2 separate regions of the Homo sapiens genome follow, and region 2 is linked to region 1. The links come from fine-mapping of genetic effects on gene expression. A gene starts in region 1. The other region holds a variant in brackets. All regions are shown on one strand. Distances are between the middles of the regions.

What was found.
Region 2: its variant is fine-mapped to the expression of IRAK3 in whole blood (TOPMed, PIP above 0.99).

What each region holds. Positions count from the first base shown.
Region 1 is chr12:66,185,846-66,194,184 of GRCh38, reverse strand. IRAK3 (interleukin 1 receptor associated kinase 3) reads right to left here and starts at 4,971. Exons shown (of 12, transcript NM_007199.3): 1 at 4,753-4,971. The coding sequence starts at 4,885. RefSeq lists silencers at 4,637-4,796, 4,817-4,866.
Region 2 is chr12:66,163,868-66,172,206 of GRCh38, reverse strand. It overlaps TMBIM4 (transmembrane BAX inhibitor motif containing 4), which reads left to right and starts at 2,211. Exons shown (of 7, transcript NM_016056.4): 1 at 2,211-2,352. The coding sequence starts at 2,256. RefSeq lists enhancers at 2,230-2,309, 1,953-2,477, 2,960-3,059. The variant T/A (reference allele first, on the strand shown) is at 5,011.

The sequences.
Region 1 (8,339 bases):
CTGTAATCCCAGCACTTTGGGAGGCTGAAGCAGGAGGATTGCTAGAGCCCAGGAGTTTGAGACCAGCCTGGCCCCATCCATACAAAAACTTCGCCAGGTGTGGTGGCATGTGCCTGCAGTCCCAGCTATTTGGGAGTCTGAGGTGGGAAGGATCACTTGAGCCTGGGAGGTCGAGGCTGCAGTGAGTTGTGATTGTGCCACTGCACTTCACCCTGGATGACAGAGTGAGATCCCGTCTCCAAAACAACAACAGCAACACAAAAAAAGCAGGCTCTACTGCATATGGTGACTTCCTTCCAAAAAGTAAGAAACAGAAAGAGAGGGAAGTGAAGTAATTTTACAGGGCAGATATCTGACAGATGCCATCTCAGCCATGGTTAACATAAGCAGTGATAACTCCTGTAAATAGTACCGACCCTGGATACAGGTCAGTACTTTATGGTTTTCCTCCCCCAAATCCATAACCTCAGTCTGATCATGAGAAAAACATCAGACAAATCGCAGTTGAGGAACAGTCTACAAAATAGTGGATAAGTTCCAACCAATACTCCTCAAAACGAGGAAAGTCTGAGAAACCATCACAGCCAAGAAGAGCCAGAGGATACGACAAATAAATGTAATGTGGTATCCTGAATGGGATCCTGGAACAGAGAAAGGACATCGGGTAAAAGCAAAGGAAGTCTGAATAAAGCATGGACTTTAGTTAATAATAATGTGTCAATATTGTAATGAATGCAGCACACTCATGCAAGATGTTAATAATGGGAAACTGGGTGCGGAGTGTACTAAGGATGTAGAGTATCTGGGAACTCTTCCTACTATCTGCTAAACTTTTCCATAAATTTAAAACTGTTCTTAAAAAAATACATCTAGGCCAGGCGCGGTGGCTCACGCCTGTAATCCCAGCACTTTAGGAGGCTGAGGCAGGCAGATCACCTGAGGTCGGGAGTTCGAGACCAGCCTGACCAACATGGAGAAACCCTGTCTCTACTAAAAATACAAAAAAAAATTAAGCCGGGCATGGTGGTGCATGCCTGTAATCCCAGCTACTCGGGAGGCTGAGATAGGAGAATCATTTGAACCCGGGAGGCGGAGGTTGCGGTAAACTGAGATTGCGCCATTGCACTCCAGCCTAGGCAACAAGAGCGAAACTCCATCTCAAAAAAAAGATAATAATAACATAAAAAAACACATCTATTTAAAATTTAGAAAGAAAAGAAAAGAAAAAAAGAACATAGAATATGCAGTCTGATCATCTGGTTAGAATCTTAGTGTGCCATTTAGAAGACTGTGACTCAAGGCAAGTTACTTAAATTCTCTGAGAATCAGTTCACCTATCTATAAAATGGAAATAGGAAGAGTGTCTACCTGATAGAATTGTTGTAATAAGTAAATGAGATAATCCATGTAAAATGCTTACCACAATGGCCAATAGTAAGCCTTGACAGGAGGTAGCTTTATTATTATTACTACTATTATTTTGAATCTTTATTGAATATACAAATGCACACTTAATGTGATTTTACATTTAATTTTTAAAGTAATTATTAATGATTTATATAATAATTTCCCTTTTCTTTCTTGAGAGGAAGAAAATTGAATACAGCCTATTATATATCATTTGCAAAAAGCGTTTCTCAGTACATCGTAAGTGTTGAGAGGTTTTTACGGTGTCAGCTGCTCCAAATAATTTAATTTAAATACCAATCTATGGTAATGTAATCAGATGAGTTGTCTCCAGAGGTTCTGTATGTACTACGTTATCATGTCTGTAACGTAAACAACATATTTCATTTGGGCTTTTGGGCTCTTGCTTTCACTAAAAGCCATAAAGTCATCAATGATAACCACAGAATATATTATCTTGTGATTACATTATTTTTAATAACAATACTTGACAAAAGTGATTTGAAGAGTACTATGTAGAATATGTTTAAAAATAAAAGTAATTAAATGAAGTAATGAAAGAATGTAGTAAAATATCTGTTATATGAAGACACTATTAAAAAAGAGAATTTGGCCTAAGCAATGGCTTACCAATCAGGTTGTGCCTCAGACTCACTCCTGGGGCTTGACAAAAAATGAAAGAAGCTGGACCCTCAACCCAGACTTCCTGAATCAGCAGCTCTAGGAGTGGGACCTGCATCTGTGTATTTAAAAGACTGCATAGGTGATTTGTGTTTGTGAATGACTGGCTTACCTTATCCTGCACACACTGGTCATATCATATAGGCTGCTATATGAGCTGCCTTTGTAAACATAACCTGACACTCACCGTCATCAAGAATCACGATCGGCTCGAGAGAGCTTTACTTAGTATATTACAGTTGTTTTCTACATTTAAGCTTGGGCTGTCAGCTGTCCTGAGCATACAAAGGACTGCCTCTTTGATTCAGTCCTCTGTCACTCTCCTTCCCCTCTCGAAGGTCAAGTTTTCCCTACCTGCACCTCTTCCCCTCTTTCTCCCTTCGCTGTGCCCACAGGAAAACTCGGCATGTTTAGCACAGGCAGTTGCCTCAACACCCTGAACTGGGCTAGCCTTGCCTTCTTGCTGAGCCAAGAACTTGTGCAGCACCTGGTCAGGGCCAGCTCAGTAGTCCAGGCAGTCAGTAGGCATGACCACCTGCACAATGAATTACAGCTGAAGTATCATGGAGTAAACATTTTAGACCCTTTCCCTGTGAGAGAATGAATACACAAAGGGACAATGGCCAGCTTATATATAAAAATAGAACTCTGCAGGCAATGTACATCAACCAGTCCAAGAAACCAACCTACCGTCTACAGTATCTAACAAGTTAAACTATCAGTAACTGGGTTAAACTGTAGCAACTAGCCCAGGCAGCCAAACAAGAACCCCTGTAGCAACCTGTCTCAAATGGCCAGGACTTGAATAATTACTGACCACTTCCTCAATTTTTGCTCCTACTTCCAACTTAGGGCCAACCAGAGAAAGCCAATTATGTACCCCTAAACAAACACACAAAATACCCCCTTTTAGGTAGCTCAACTACAGCTTCCCCATATCAACAGCCTCCAATCAGGACACAGCTGAAGCCTTCTTCTCCCACCCTCCTCCATCCTCTGTCTGCTTTTGAGTCTCTGCCAAACACAAGCAATGGTGCTGGCTCCCTTGCTTTGAAAAAAATAGCTTTTGTTTGTTCTCATTTGGGTGGTCCTCATTCATTTTCACCACTAGGAAAATAGGGCTGCATGCTTGAAATGGATCACTGAATTGTTCTTTGATGCCAGAAATGTCTGTACTTTAGGGAGGCTGTTAGATGTGGCCAGAAAGAACACAGCAGTAAGGGGAGAAGTGTAGAGTAGCTGGGGTTAAGGACATAAGCCTTGGATCCAGACTACCATGGTTCAGATCCTGGCTCTTCCATTTCCAGCTGGTGAACCTGAACAAGTTACTTAACCAATTTGTACCAGTTTCCTGACCTGTTAAAAAAACACTGGCGATGATAATGACTCACAGAGTAATTGGAGAAGTTATATGAGACAAGCCATGTAAAGCATGAATATCTGGATTTCAATGCTATCAACAGAAAGAGAGAGAATAATCTGCCTCACTAATTTACCACACCCACCTGGCCCCATTCACCAACATTAAACTGGACTAAAAACACTTTTCTTTCTCAAAGTCAGTAACTCTAGGAAATCAACGGGTATAAATACTGTCCACGCCAAAATCCATCTCAAAAAGATCTGATGGGGAAGTGACCTTATCCCTCAAAATCCCTCAAATGCACACTGGAAATCTCGTTTTCTAGAAATCAGACTTTTTTTTTTTTCTTAAGGGCCATAACTTAAAATTACAGAGCTTAAAATATATAAACATTTTTTGTATAACCAGAAGCCCATTGCTACAATTCAAAGACTGTCACCATACTGTTCATCAGTAACAAAGAAAACTCTCCTCTTAGGCCTTCTGCTAGTCCTGGTAAGAAAAATCCTATTTCAGACCATTAAAGCTAAGTTATTTTGACATAATCATGATTCTTTTCAATAAACATTAAACATGACATTGTGGAATATCAAATCTAACCAAAAATGCCTGTACTTAACAAAACGAAGATTTTTGTCCGAATTATCTCTGGCTACACTCAACACTTCCAGCAGGCAGTTGCTCAACTTTCCAATGTCTGCATAAAATACAGTTCTGAAGCCAATTTTTTTAGATTAAAATAAAAAGCCACCCTTTAGCATAAACCTTCATTCAACGAAATTGGGTAAATAAGATTTAATTAAGAAAATTAGGAGCCGCGTTCATTGCAAACCGTAGTTTACTTTAGCATTTCACTTGTAATTAAGTTAGGGGCTTAGGGATGCATTGAAAACACCAAAGGATAAGTATCTCAAAGTTCTAAAAATGTCTCAATACTAAAATGATGTTCTGGGGTGATTTTGCAAGGACCAGAAGACATCATACATTGCGAACCCAGTGAGGGTGGCATCGCGGACGAACAGAAGATGCTTTCACGCTGGTTATCTGTCTTTCCCAGGCCTCGGCTCCCTTGACTTTGCAGCGATACCCAAAATTCTTTGAAAGAGAAGGGAGGGAAGGCATCTGGGTCCCAGGGAGTCTCTGCATCCAACCCAGGAAAGGAGGGGGCCGGCTCCCTGGCGGGAACTTCCCGGAGGCCGCGCCAGCCCCGCGAGGGACCCCAGCCATGCAGGGCGACGCCGAGCGGGCCCCGCGGCGCGCTGGGCTCCCCCGCCGCCCCCGGCCGGTCCCCGCCGACTCACCCAGGCCGCGCCAGCCCAGCGCGCCGTCGCAGCTGTCCAGAACAGCGCAGAGCTCTCCGAGCAGCGCGGGCGGCAGGTCGAACAGCAGCGTGTGCGCCGACAGCGCGCCGCGGGCCCCACAGTTCCCCGCCATGGCTCGGCTGCCCGAGCCCCGGGGACGAGGCGGAGTCCAGGTCCCTGCACGCCTGCGACAGGCCGTTACACAACCGCGGAAATCCTGCTTCCACGACGGCAGCAGAGCCCTAGGAACACGCCGTTCTCCGGTCACTGCAGGGGCGGTGCCCACGTGACGCAAGGCGCGCCTCGCCCGAGATGCCCCTGCGTCCGCCTGGCCAGGCCTGGGGGTTACCCGACCCGGGTTCTCCCTTCGCTGGCTTTGCGCCCCTTCACACCTCTGCGGTGGGGACGGAGCTGCCGAGACAAGCAGAGTGCGAACTGGAGAAAGCCCAGAGCTCAGAGCTCCCAGGAGCCCACCGTGCCCCACGGCTAGGCGGTCTCCTGGTGTGGACGGCTAGCGGTGTCATTACTTCTTACAAAAGTTTATTTTTGAAAGCTTCTCCCTTCCTTCCTTCTTCCCTTCCTTTCTTTTCTTCCTTTTTTCTTTGTTTTGAGTCAGGTTCTCACTCTGTCGCCCAGGCAGGAGCGCAGTGGCGCTATCTCAGCTCACGGAGCCTCCACCTATTGGGCTCAAGCGATCCTCCCACCTCAGCCTCCCGAGTAGCTGGGACCACAGTCGCACGCCACCACGTCCGGCTAATTATTTTTTTTCGTTTTTCGTAGAGAGGGAGTGTCGTTATGCTGCCCAGGCTGGTTTCAAACTCCTGGCCTCAAGCGATCCTCCCACCTCCGGCTTCCCAAAGTGCTGGGATTCGGGGTGTTAGCCACTGTCCCGGACTACTTCTTTTTTATCCTGTCAGAAAAACTATCCATGTTCATCGAGGAACACTTGGAAAACCCAGAAAAAAACTGAAAAAAGAAGATAATCACTCACAACCCCACTCAGCCCATCACACTCTAAAAGTTTTGACACATTTTCCTCCCAACTTTTACTGAATTTAAACAGATAAAAATGTACATATATGGGATTATTATTGGAAAAGATGAATGTAGATACCAACAAGAGAAAAACAGAAAAGACACCAAATCAGCGTAAAATTATGTTCGTTTTCTTCACGAGGCGGCCTCTCCTCCATACACCTACTTGGTTTTAATAAATTTTCTTCCTCATGGGCTTCCTTGATGAAATATCGTTCCATCATTTTTTCCTTCCTCAAAGTGCTTCACACAATCTTCCTTTTTGCCTTCAACATGGAGTTTAAGTAAAATTGTTGTTTTGAAATCTTCACGGAGTTTAAGTAAAATTGTTGTTTCAAAATCTTCTAGGTCACATGAGGCATGTTACCAGTGACAAAAAGTTGTTTTGAAAGTGGTGAGAAAAATCTCAGCCTTAGTGACTGGAAGAGTGGGCAGTGGCCATCAAGTGAAAACACCAGAGGTGTTTTGAAACCTCTCAGATTGTAGTCTTTGGAATAGCTGCCCCTAGAGATCACGAGTGATGAAACACTATCATTTCATGCCCCTACCTGAATGGTTTTGCCAGCGAAAATACTTCATAAAAATGTATCTGAAAACTGGCAAAGCCCATACTGTGTGGGCAAGAATTTCGATATCCCGTTGTTCAAGGTTTTATTGTCAATCTGTACACACTGTACACCTACCTACCTTCCTTCCTTCCTTCCTTCCTTCCCTCCTTTCTTCCTTCCTTCCCTCCTTTCTTTCTTATTTGTTTTTTTTAGTCGCTCTGATTGCCCAGGTTGGGGTGCAATGGTGCGATCTCGGCTCACTGCAACTTCCACCCCCTGGGCTCAAGCCATCCTCCCACCTCAGCCTCCAGTACAGCTGGGACTACAGGTGCATGCCACCATGCCTGGCTAACCTTTGTAGTTTTTGTAGAGACGGGGTTTTCCCATGTTGCTCAATCTGGTCTCAAACTCCTGGGCTCAAGTGATCCACCTCCCTAGGCCTCCCAAGGTTCTGGGATTACAGGCATGAGCCACCACACCCGGCCCTCTATACATCTCTTAAAGGGACTACCTGAACATGCTGAGCAACAGAGGCAAAAGGCCATTAATTATTTGGTAGCTTTTGAATTGCTACTACAGGGAGGCAAACTCACTCAGAGGAAACAGGAAATCACTGCAGATGAGGGAAGCAATCAGAAAGGCCTGCTTTACCAGATCTTGTAATTTACCAAGAAGCAAGGATCCTAAGTGAAAGCTAGAGTATGTGAAATTTCCTGTATTTTCAGTGTTGGCAGTCGTTCTCAGACCATGTTGCCTTCCTATTCCTAAAACTGTCTTGAGTTTTGATTTTTATATCATCAGGTTGTATCATCATGGTTGCTATCAACTGCTGATCTCCCCGACTCCAATTCCTTCTCCTCGTTTTTAGACTCTCTAGCTCCTGGCTCATTGTTGCTCTCTCCAGTACTAATCCTATCTTAGTTCTCAGTGATTTAAAATATATGTAGAATAACTATTCACAATAGCAAAGACATGGAATCAAGCCAAATGCCCATCAATGATAGACTGGATAAAGAAAACGTGGTATGTATACACCATGGAATACTATGCAGCCATAAAAAGGAATGAGATCATGTCCTTTGCAGGGATAGGGATAGAGCTGGAGGCCATTATCCTCAGCAAACTAACACAGGAACAGAAAATCAAATACTGCATGTTCTCACTTATAAGTGGGAGCTGAACCATGAGAACACATGGACACTTGGTGGGGAACAATGCATACTGGGGCCTGTCAGGGGAGGGGGTAGGGGGAGGCAGTGAATCAGAAGCAATAGCTAATAGATGCTGGGCTTAATACCTAGGTGGTGGGATCATCTGTGCAGCAAACCACAATGGCACATATTTACCTATGTAACAAACTGCACATCCTGCACATGTACCCTAGAACTTAAAATAAAAGTTGATGAAACAAAATTAAAACATACACACACACACACACACACACACACATATATATATATATATATGTAGAATAGATGGTGATCTTTCCAATGCCCTGGCCTCTCATTTCCTTGACTCCTCTTCTCTGGTGACATTGTACTCCACCCAATGCTCCATTTCAGACACTTACTCCCATGAGCGTCCCCTAGAATTTGTCATTATCAATAGCTGCATCCCATCTATAATTTCTTTCATGAATCCACTCTCTGATCATACCTCCTGTCTTTCTAGCACATTCCCTCTAGTACTCTGACCCCAACAATCCTGTCCCTTCACCAGATATCCAATCCAAAATCTTGCTGCCTCTTTTCTGGCTCCACCCTCTTGACATCCTGACTTTTCTGCTTATCCATTAAGTCTGTGGTCAATTATTTTATTCACTCCTTTGCATATGCTCTACATTCCCTTGCTCCTCTCTCACTTTGTTGAGCTCTCTTGGCAAGTTTGCAATTCTGATTAAATCCAATTTTCTAAGTTGGCTCCACACCCATGCACCTGAGTGTAGCTGGGGAACGGGGTGGAAAACCAAAATCCTGTTAATTGAACTCAATTTAAAATCAAGGC
Region 2 (8,339 bases), 22 kb after region 1:
TCTGGATTTGTAACAATTGTTTTTATATTCTGAAAAGGAGCCTTAGGTAGGTTATATGTATAGCAGATATCTTCCCCTACTCTATGGCTTCCTTTTCACTCTCTTATGGTATATTTTGATTACTAGAAATTCCTAATTTTAATATAATTTAATTTGGCAATCTTTTCATTTGAAGTTAAGTGCTATTTTGTATCTGGTTTCAGAAATCTTTGCCTTCCTCCAAATCATATTCTCCTGTATCATTTTCTTTAAGTTTTATTGTTTTTGCCTTTCACATTTATATCCACAATCTATCTGGAATTTATTTTTTTTTGTAACTGGTAAGAGGTAAAGGATCAAACTTTGCTGATGCTGTTTTTAGTCAATACAAAGGTGGGTTCCCAATTTAGCTCCAGTTTGTCCTCTATAATAAATTCCATTATTACGGCGGGGCAGAGAAAGAGGGGATGGCTTCGGGTTAGGATGGGAGAGAAAACGGATTACATTCCCAGTGTCATCTGAAGTAAAACTTTTCTCAGATTTTTCTCAGCAAGCTTTTTAAGTCCTCTCACCTGGAGAGTGACTAAAGAGATAGAGGCCATATCCCATTCACCTATCCATTCAACAAACTAAACTAAAACGAGGGGCCGGACACAGTGGCTAACGCCTGTGATCTCAGCACTTTGGGAGGTCGAGGTAGGGGGATCACTTGAGCCCAAGTTCGAGACCAGCATGGGCAACATGGCGAAATTCCGTCACTACAAAAAATACAAAAAATTACCCGGGGGTGGTCACCTGACCTCAGGAGGTCAAGGCTGCTGTGAGCCGAGATAGAGCCACCGCACTCCAGCCTGGGTGACAGACTGAGACTCTATCTCAAAACAAACCAACAAAAACAAATTAAAATGATATGCTTGTAAAATGTTTGTAAAATCATAAAAGATAAAGTGTTTTTTTGTTTTGTTTTGTTTTTCTTGTCATTGTGGAAGTGACGTTAGTTCTTTTGGCAAAGGCTTCTGAGAACATCAAGTTTAAGGATTTAGTTTAGAATAGACTGTTCCACAACTGTTCTGAATTCCACTTGCTAAGTGTTCGGGTGTTGTGGTTAAGGTGAGGACTGGGCAATGTGGGTAGATCAGAGTAAACTCATCAAAACAATTCCAAGGGACCCTAGGATGACACTACTCTGGGTATGTCTACACCTCTTTATATTGGAATGACAACAATATCATGAATATTCACTCTAATCCATTGTATTTGCCACCATCATCTCTCTCTTACAGTAATACAACTTTATCCCCTTTTCTCTGCCTTTGGTAATGGCCCTCTTCAATGTATTCTACTTCTGGCCTAGGATGATCTGGCCTTTGTTTATCTATCCAGCCTCATTCTTTGCCACCTGTCCCCTACACCAGCTGAGCTTCACCGTCTCCCTCTTTGCAGACGTTGGTCCCTTGAGGCCCAGCCTACATCACTGCTCTTTCTCTGGTTGGCTCCTACTTGCCTTTCAGGATTAAATATTACTTCATTCAGAAAGCCTGGTTTATAGAAAGTGCTCAATAAATGTAGGTATTATTATTATTTTAAAATAATAGAAGTAAAAATGCATCCTCGGTGTGATTATTGAAAAAGTGGATGAATGAGATGGGTATTTGTTGAGTGGATGGGTGACTGGGACATGGGTTCTATCACTTTAGCAACTCTCCAAGGTGAAAGGACTTAAAGTGTGTTCAGGCTGGGCGCGGTGGCTCACGCCTGTAATCTCAGCACTTTGGGAGGCCGAGGCGGGCGGATCACGAGGTCAGCAGATCGAGACCATCCTGGCTAACATGGTGAAACCTCGTCTCTGCTAAAAATATAAAAAAATTAGCCTGGCGTGGTGGCAGGCGCCTGTAATCTCAGCTATTCGGGAGGCTGAGGCAGGAGAACCGCTTGAACCCGGGAGGCGGAGGTTGCGGTGAGCCGAGATCGTGCCATTGCACTCCAGCCTGGGCAACAAGAGTGAAACTCCATCTCAAAAAAAAAAAAAAAAGTGTGTTGAGAAAAGTTTCACTTCAGATGACGCCGGGAATGTAAACCGTTTTCTCTTCCATTCTAACTCGGAGCCATCCCCGCTTTCTCCGCCCAGCTGGAATTTTTGAAGCGAGAAAATCGACTCGCTCGGTGTTCGCCCGCCGACGCCGCACGGCTTGCTGGGGCTGGGCTCTTCCTCGCGGAAGTGGGGAGGAGGCGGTTGCGGTTAGTGGACCGGGACCGGTAGGGGTGCTGTTGCCATCATGGCTGACCCCGACCCCCGGTACCCTCGCTCCTCGATCGAGGACGACTTCAACTATGGCAGCAGCGTGGCCTCCGCCACCGTGCACATCCGAATGGGTACGTTGTCCCCTCTCCAGTGCCTCCCAGCCGCTTGTCTGCACTGCTCGGCCTCTAGAAGCCGACTTCCGGCTTCCGAGGGAGAGCGGCCATCTCCTGGGACTCACAGGGAGTGCTCACTGAGCTCCCGGCCCTCCTTCTCCGGGTACCAGAGGACTGGCGCCCTCCTCAGGGAGTCGGGGAGGCGCTTCCTCCCCTCCTAGCGGGTGTGGGAGGGCGCCAGGCCCAGAAGGCTTGCGGCTGTCCTGTGTGCGCCCCGGCTCCCCAGCGGGCGCCGCGGTGTAGGAAGGGACAGATGGAAACCGCCGCAGCCTGAATTTGGCATCTTGAAGTGAAAAGAAACGTCGTGGAAATGAGTCGGTTGATCACTGTGACTGACGTACACACGAGTGGAATCCACGGCCTGATGTTTTTGTTCTGTGGGGTTTCGCGTTACAGGCTTATATTTACCGTCCTGTGCTAGGCTGGAAGCTCCCTGACGGCACTATTTCCTCTCCGCAGGGCCCAGAATGCAACAGGTCTTTGAGGATTATTGAGGAAGTTGCTCAACACAGAAGCTTCCTAAGTCAGTCTAAATTGTGTTTTAAGTTATTACGTAGTAGCCAATGGGCAGAAATTTTTGAATTTAAAATGCTCAGCTTCATCTACGTGGAAGCCATTGCCTGCTCTAGTTTGGTCATTTGATCGCCGAAACAGCCCCAGACTTTCAGCCTGTTTAGGCAGCTGGAACTTGTTCTGGAAAAGGAAAGATGAAGATAGTTCTGATGTGCTAAGAATCTTAGTGCCTAGAACTTGTTCTGGAAAAGGAAAGATGAAGATAGTTCTGATGCACCAAGAATCTTGGTGCCTAGCATTTATATTTTTGGAATTGAATTTTGAAATTATTTTGGCCAGTGAACTCAGCTTTTTTTTAAAAAAAATTAATTGTGGTAAAATACAGGTAACATAAAATTTACCGTCTTAACTATTTTTAAGTGTATAGTTCAGTAGTGTTAAGTTATTCACATGGTTGTGCACTGTTAAAAGAAAAACTTTAGACACATTAAATCTAACGGAGTTTGAGCACAGAATGATTTGCGAATTGGGCAGGTCCCGGAACCAGAATAAGGTTCAGAGTGATGAGTCCTGCCGCTTGGTGGGAGAAAATTTATGGAGAGAGAAAGTAAAGTGAGGTACAGAAAATAGAAGTGAGGTACAGAAAGAGTTGATTGGTTACAGCTTGGTTTTTGCCCGTTTGAACATGGTTTGAACACGTGGCCATCTTTGGCTGAAACTCAGTGATTGGTTCAAGCGTAGGTTACAGCCTGTTTACTAGGTTATAGTTCACTATATACCGAGAACCCCTAGGCTGAACTTAAAATATCTAAAGGCATAGCTTTAGACTAAACTTATATACCATCCAATATCCAGAACTTTTTAATCTTGCAAAACTGAAACTCTATACCTATTAACTCCCCATTCCTTCCTTCCCCCAGTCCCTGGAACCACCATTTCACTTTCTCTCTCTGTGAATTTGGCTACTCTAGATACAATCAGTATTTGTTTTTTTGTGGTTGGCTTTTTTCAATTAGCATAATGTCTTCAAATACATCCATGTTGTGGCATATGTCAGAATTTCCTTTTTTTTTTTTTTTGAGACAGGGTCTCGCTTTGCCACCGAGGCTGGAGTGCAGTGGTGAGATCACTGCTCACTGCAGCCTCTACCTTCTGGGCTCAGGTGATCCTCCCGCCTCAGCCTCTCGAGTAGTTGGGATTACAAATGCAGGTCACCAGGCCTGGCTAATTTTTTTGTACTTTTGGTAGAGACGGGTTTCTCCATGTTGCCCCATCCGATCTTGAACTCCTGGACTCAAGCGATCCTCCCACCTCAGCCTCCCAAAGTCCTGGGATTACAGGCATGAGCCACTGCACCTGGCTGCAGAATTTCCTTTTTAAGACAGTAGTAGTACTTTGTATGTATATACCAAATTTTGTTTATTCATCCATTGATGGACATTTGTGTTGCTTCTACCTCTTGACTACTTTGAATAGTGCTGTCATGAATATAGGTGTGCACATACCTCTTCAAGACCGTGCTTTAATTCTTTTGAATATATACCCAGAAGTGGAATTGCTGGATTGTGTGGTAGTTCTATTTTTAATTATTTAAGGAACGGCCATACTGTTTTTGATAGGGGCTACATCATTTTACATTCTCAGCAACAGTGCACAAGGGTTCACCTTTTTCTACATCCTTGCCAACACATTCCGTTCTTTTCTTTCTTTTTAAAATGAAAATAGCCATCAAATGAGTGTGAGGTGGTATGTCCTTTTGGTTTTGATTTGCATTTCTCTAATGATTTAATGATGTTGCACATTTTAAAAGTATGCGTGTGGGGCATTTATACATTTTCCTTGGAGAAATGTTATTCAAGTCCTTTGCCCAATTAATTTTTTAAAAGCAATTTTAGGTTCATAGCAAAATTTAGCAGAAAGAACAGAGTTCTTATATACCCTTTCTGCTTTTCCCCAAGCCTCTTGCACTAATAACGTTCTGTACCAGAGTGGTATGTTTGTTACAATCAGTGAACCTAGACTGGACACCTCATTATCACCCAAGACCAAGGTTTACGTTAAGGTTCGCTCTTAGTGTTGTATATTCTATGAGTTTGACAAATG[T/A]TTAATGACATGTATCCACCATGATAGTATCATACAGAATAGTTTCACTGCCTTCCTCTGTGCTCTGCCTGTTCATCCCTCCCTTCCTGCTGATCTTCTATTGTCTCCATAGTTTTGTCTTTTCCCAAATGCTGTATAGTTGGAATTATCATGTAACCTTTCAAATTGGCCTTTTTCACTTATAATATGCGTTTAAGGTTTTCTACATGTCTTTGCATGGCTTGATAGCTCATTTTTCTTTAGTGCTGAATACTATTCCATTGTTTGGATGCATTACAGTTTATTCATTCACCTACTGAAGGAAATCTTGCCTGCTTCCAAGTTTTGTCAATAAAGCTGCTTTGTAAACATCCATGTGCAGGTTTTTGTGTGGACATAAGTTTTCAACTCATTTGGGTAAATACCAAGCAGCACAATTGCCGTGTTGTATAGTAAGAGAATGTTTAGTTTCATAAGACATCACCAAGCTGTCTTACAAAGTGGCTGTACTATTTTGCACTTCCACCAGCAATGAATGAGAGTTCTTGTTGGTTCCACATACTCGTCAGCATTTGATGATATCAGTGTTTTAGATTTTGACCATTTAATAGGTGTGTAGTGGCATCTCCTTGTTGCTTTAACTTGTAATTCTCTAATGACTTATAATGTTGAGCATCTTTTCATATACTTATTTGCCATTTGTGTTTCTTCTTCCTTTTTCTTTTTCTTTTTCTTTTTTTTTTTTTTTTTTTTGAGACAAAGTATCACTCTGTCTCTCAGACTGGAGTGCAGTGGTACAGTCACAACTCACTGCAGCCTCAATGTCCCAGGCTCAAGTGATCCTCCCATCTCGGCCTCCTGAGTAGCTGGAACTACAGGCACATGCCACCATGCCTAGCTAATTTTTTATATTTTTAGAAGAGACAGGTTTCGTCATGTTAGTCAGGCTGGTCTCAAACTCGTGGGCTCAAGTGATCCACCCACCTTGGCCTCCGAAAGTGCCGGGATTACAGGCATAAGCCACTGTGCCCAGCCAATCAAATGAGAAAAGGGCAGTCTCTTCAACAAATGGTGTTGGGAAAATTGAATATCCACATTCAAAAGAATGAAATTAGATGCTTACCTTAAACTGTATACAAAAATTACCTCAAAAAAGATCGAAGTCCTAAATGTAAGACCTAAAACTATAAAACTCTTAGATAAAAACATAGGAGGACATTGGATTTGGCAATGGATTTCTTGGGCGTGACACCAAAAACAGGCAACAGAAGTAAAAATAGATGGATGACATCAAAATTTAAAACTTCTGTGTATCAAAGAACACATTCAACAGAGTGAAAAGGCCCATAAAATGGGTGAAAATATTTGCAAATGATATATCCTGTAAGAGGCTAATATCCAGAATACATAAGGAAATCCTACCATTCAATAACAAAAAACAACCTGATTTTAAAGTGAAGAAGTCAAGAAAATAAGATAGACTACATACTGGGAGAAAATATTTGCAAAAGATATATCTAATAAAGGACTGTTATCCAAAATATACAAAAGAACTCTAAACGATAAGAAGACAAATAGCCTGAATAAAATACAGCAAAAGACTTGAACACATACCCCACTAAAGAAGATTCACAAGGTTGGGTGCAGTGGTTCACGCCTGTAATCCTAACACTTTTGGAGGCCAAGGTGGGAGAATCACTTGAGCCTGGGAGGTCGAGGCTGCAGCAAGCTGTGATTGTGCCACTGCACTCCAGCCTAGGCAACAGAGGGAGACCGTGTCTGAAAAAAAAAAAAAAAAGGATCATATATACCAGGATTTATTATTGGAGCTCTGTTGTATTCCATTGGTCTGTATGTCTCTGTCTTTATGTTAGTACCACACTGTTTTGATTACTGTGGCTTTGTAATAAGTTTTGAAATCAGGAATGTGAGATCTCCAACTTTGTTGTTTTTTTTAGATATTGTTTTGGCAATTTGGGGTCCCCTGACATTCCATATACATTTTAGAATGGATTTTCTATTTCTGTGAAAGATGCCATTGGGATTTTGATAGGGATTGCATTAAATCTACCCAAAGTAGGTTACTTTGGGTAGTATGAACATCGGTTTTCCAATGTATAATGATGGATGTGTTTCCATTTATTTTTGTCTTTAATTTCTTTCATCAGTGTTTTGTAGTTTTCAAATTTGTCTTCTTGGTTAGGTTTATTCCTAAGCATTTTATTCCTTTTGATGCTGTTGTAAATGGAATTGTTTTCTTAACTTTCTTTCCAACCTTCTCATTGTTAGTGTATAAAAATGTAACTAATTTTGCATTTTAATTTTGTATCTTGAATCTTTGCTGAATTCATTTATTCTAACAGTTTATGGAATCTTTAGGGTTTTCTACATGTAAGGTCATGTTTGTGAACAGAGATAATTTTACTCCTTTCTTTCCAATATGGATGCCTTTTATTTCTTTTTCTTGCCCAATTGTTCTGGCGAGGACTTCCTGTACTATGTTGAATAGAAATGGCAAAAGCAAACGTCCTTGTCTTATTCCTGATCTTAGATGAAAAGTTTTCAGCTTTTCACCACTGAGTAAGACATTAGTGCTGGGCTTTTCATATATGGCTGTGGAGGCCAAAGTAATTCCATCTTGGTTGCTAATCTGCCTTGTTGACTTCTGACTAACCCCAGTTCCAGGAAACCCTCTAAGATTTCCAATTTATCTGTGGTTCCTTGTATAAGAGCATGTACTTACCATAAATCCTGTCCTTAGGTCAAAACAACCTTGATGTTGTCTTCCTTCAGTTGTCCTACAATCCCTTCTGAATCACCCTTTCCCTCTGGTATATAAGCCCTAGGTCAGGGGATTTATGGCCCGTAGATCCACTATCTTTTCTCTGCCTGAGACAGAGACACAGAGATGGCTTCTGTTCTTATGTCCCTATTAAATGTTTTTTTCTAAGAAAATGGATTTGCCAGCCTCTCAGCTTTCTTGGAATTTGGGGGTCGGTTTGCATAGAACTACTACCGTGGAAAAATGGCCTTTAATATGTTGAGGTAGTTTCTTTCAATTCCTACTTTATTGAGTGTTTTTATCATGAAGGTTGTGGAATTTTGTCAAAAGCTTTTTCTGCATCAGTTGAGATGATCATGTTTCTTTTTCCCCCAACATTCTGTAAATGTGCTGATTACATTGATTAATTTTCATGTATTGAACCATCCTCACAGTCCAGGAATACTGGTTGGTGGTGATCTATAATCCTTTTAATGTGCTGTTGAATTCTGTTTGCTAGTATTTTGTCGAGGATTTTCACATCAGTACTCATCAGGGACATTGCTCTGCAGTTTTCTTGTAGTGTCTT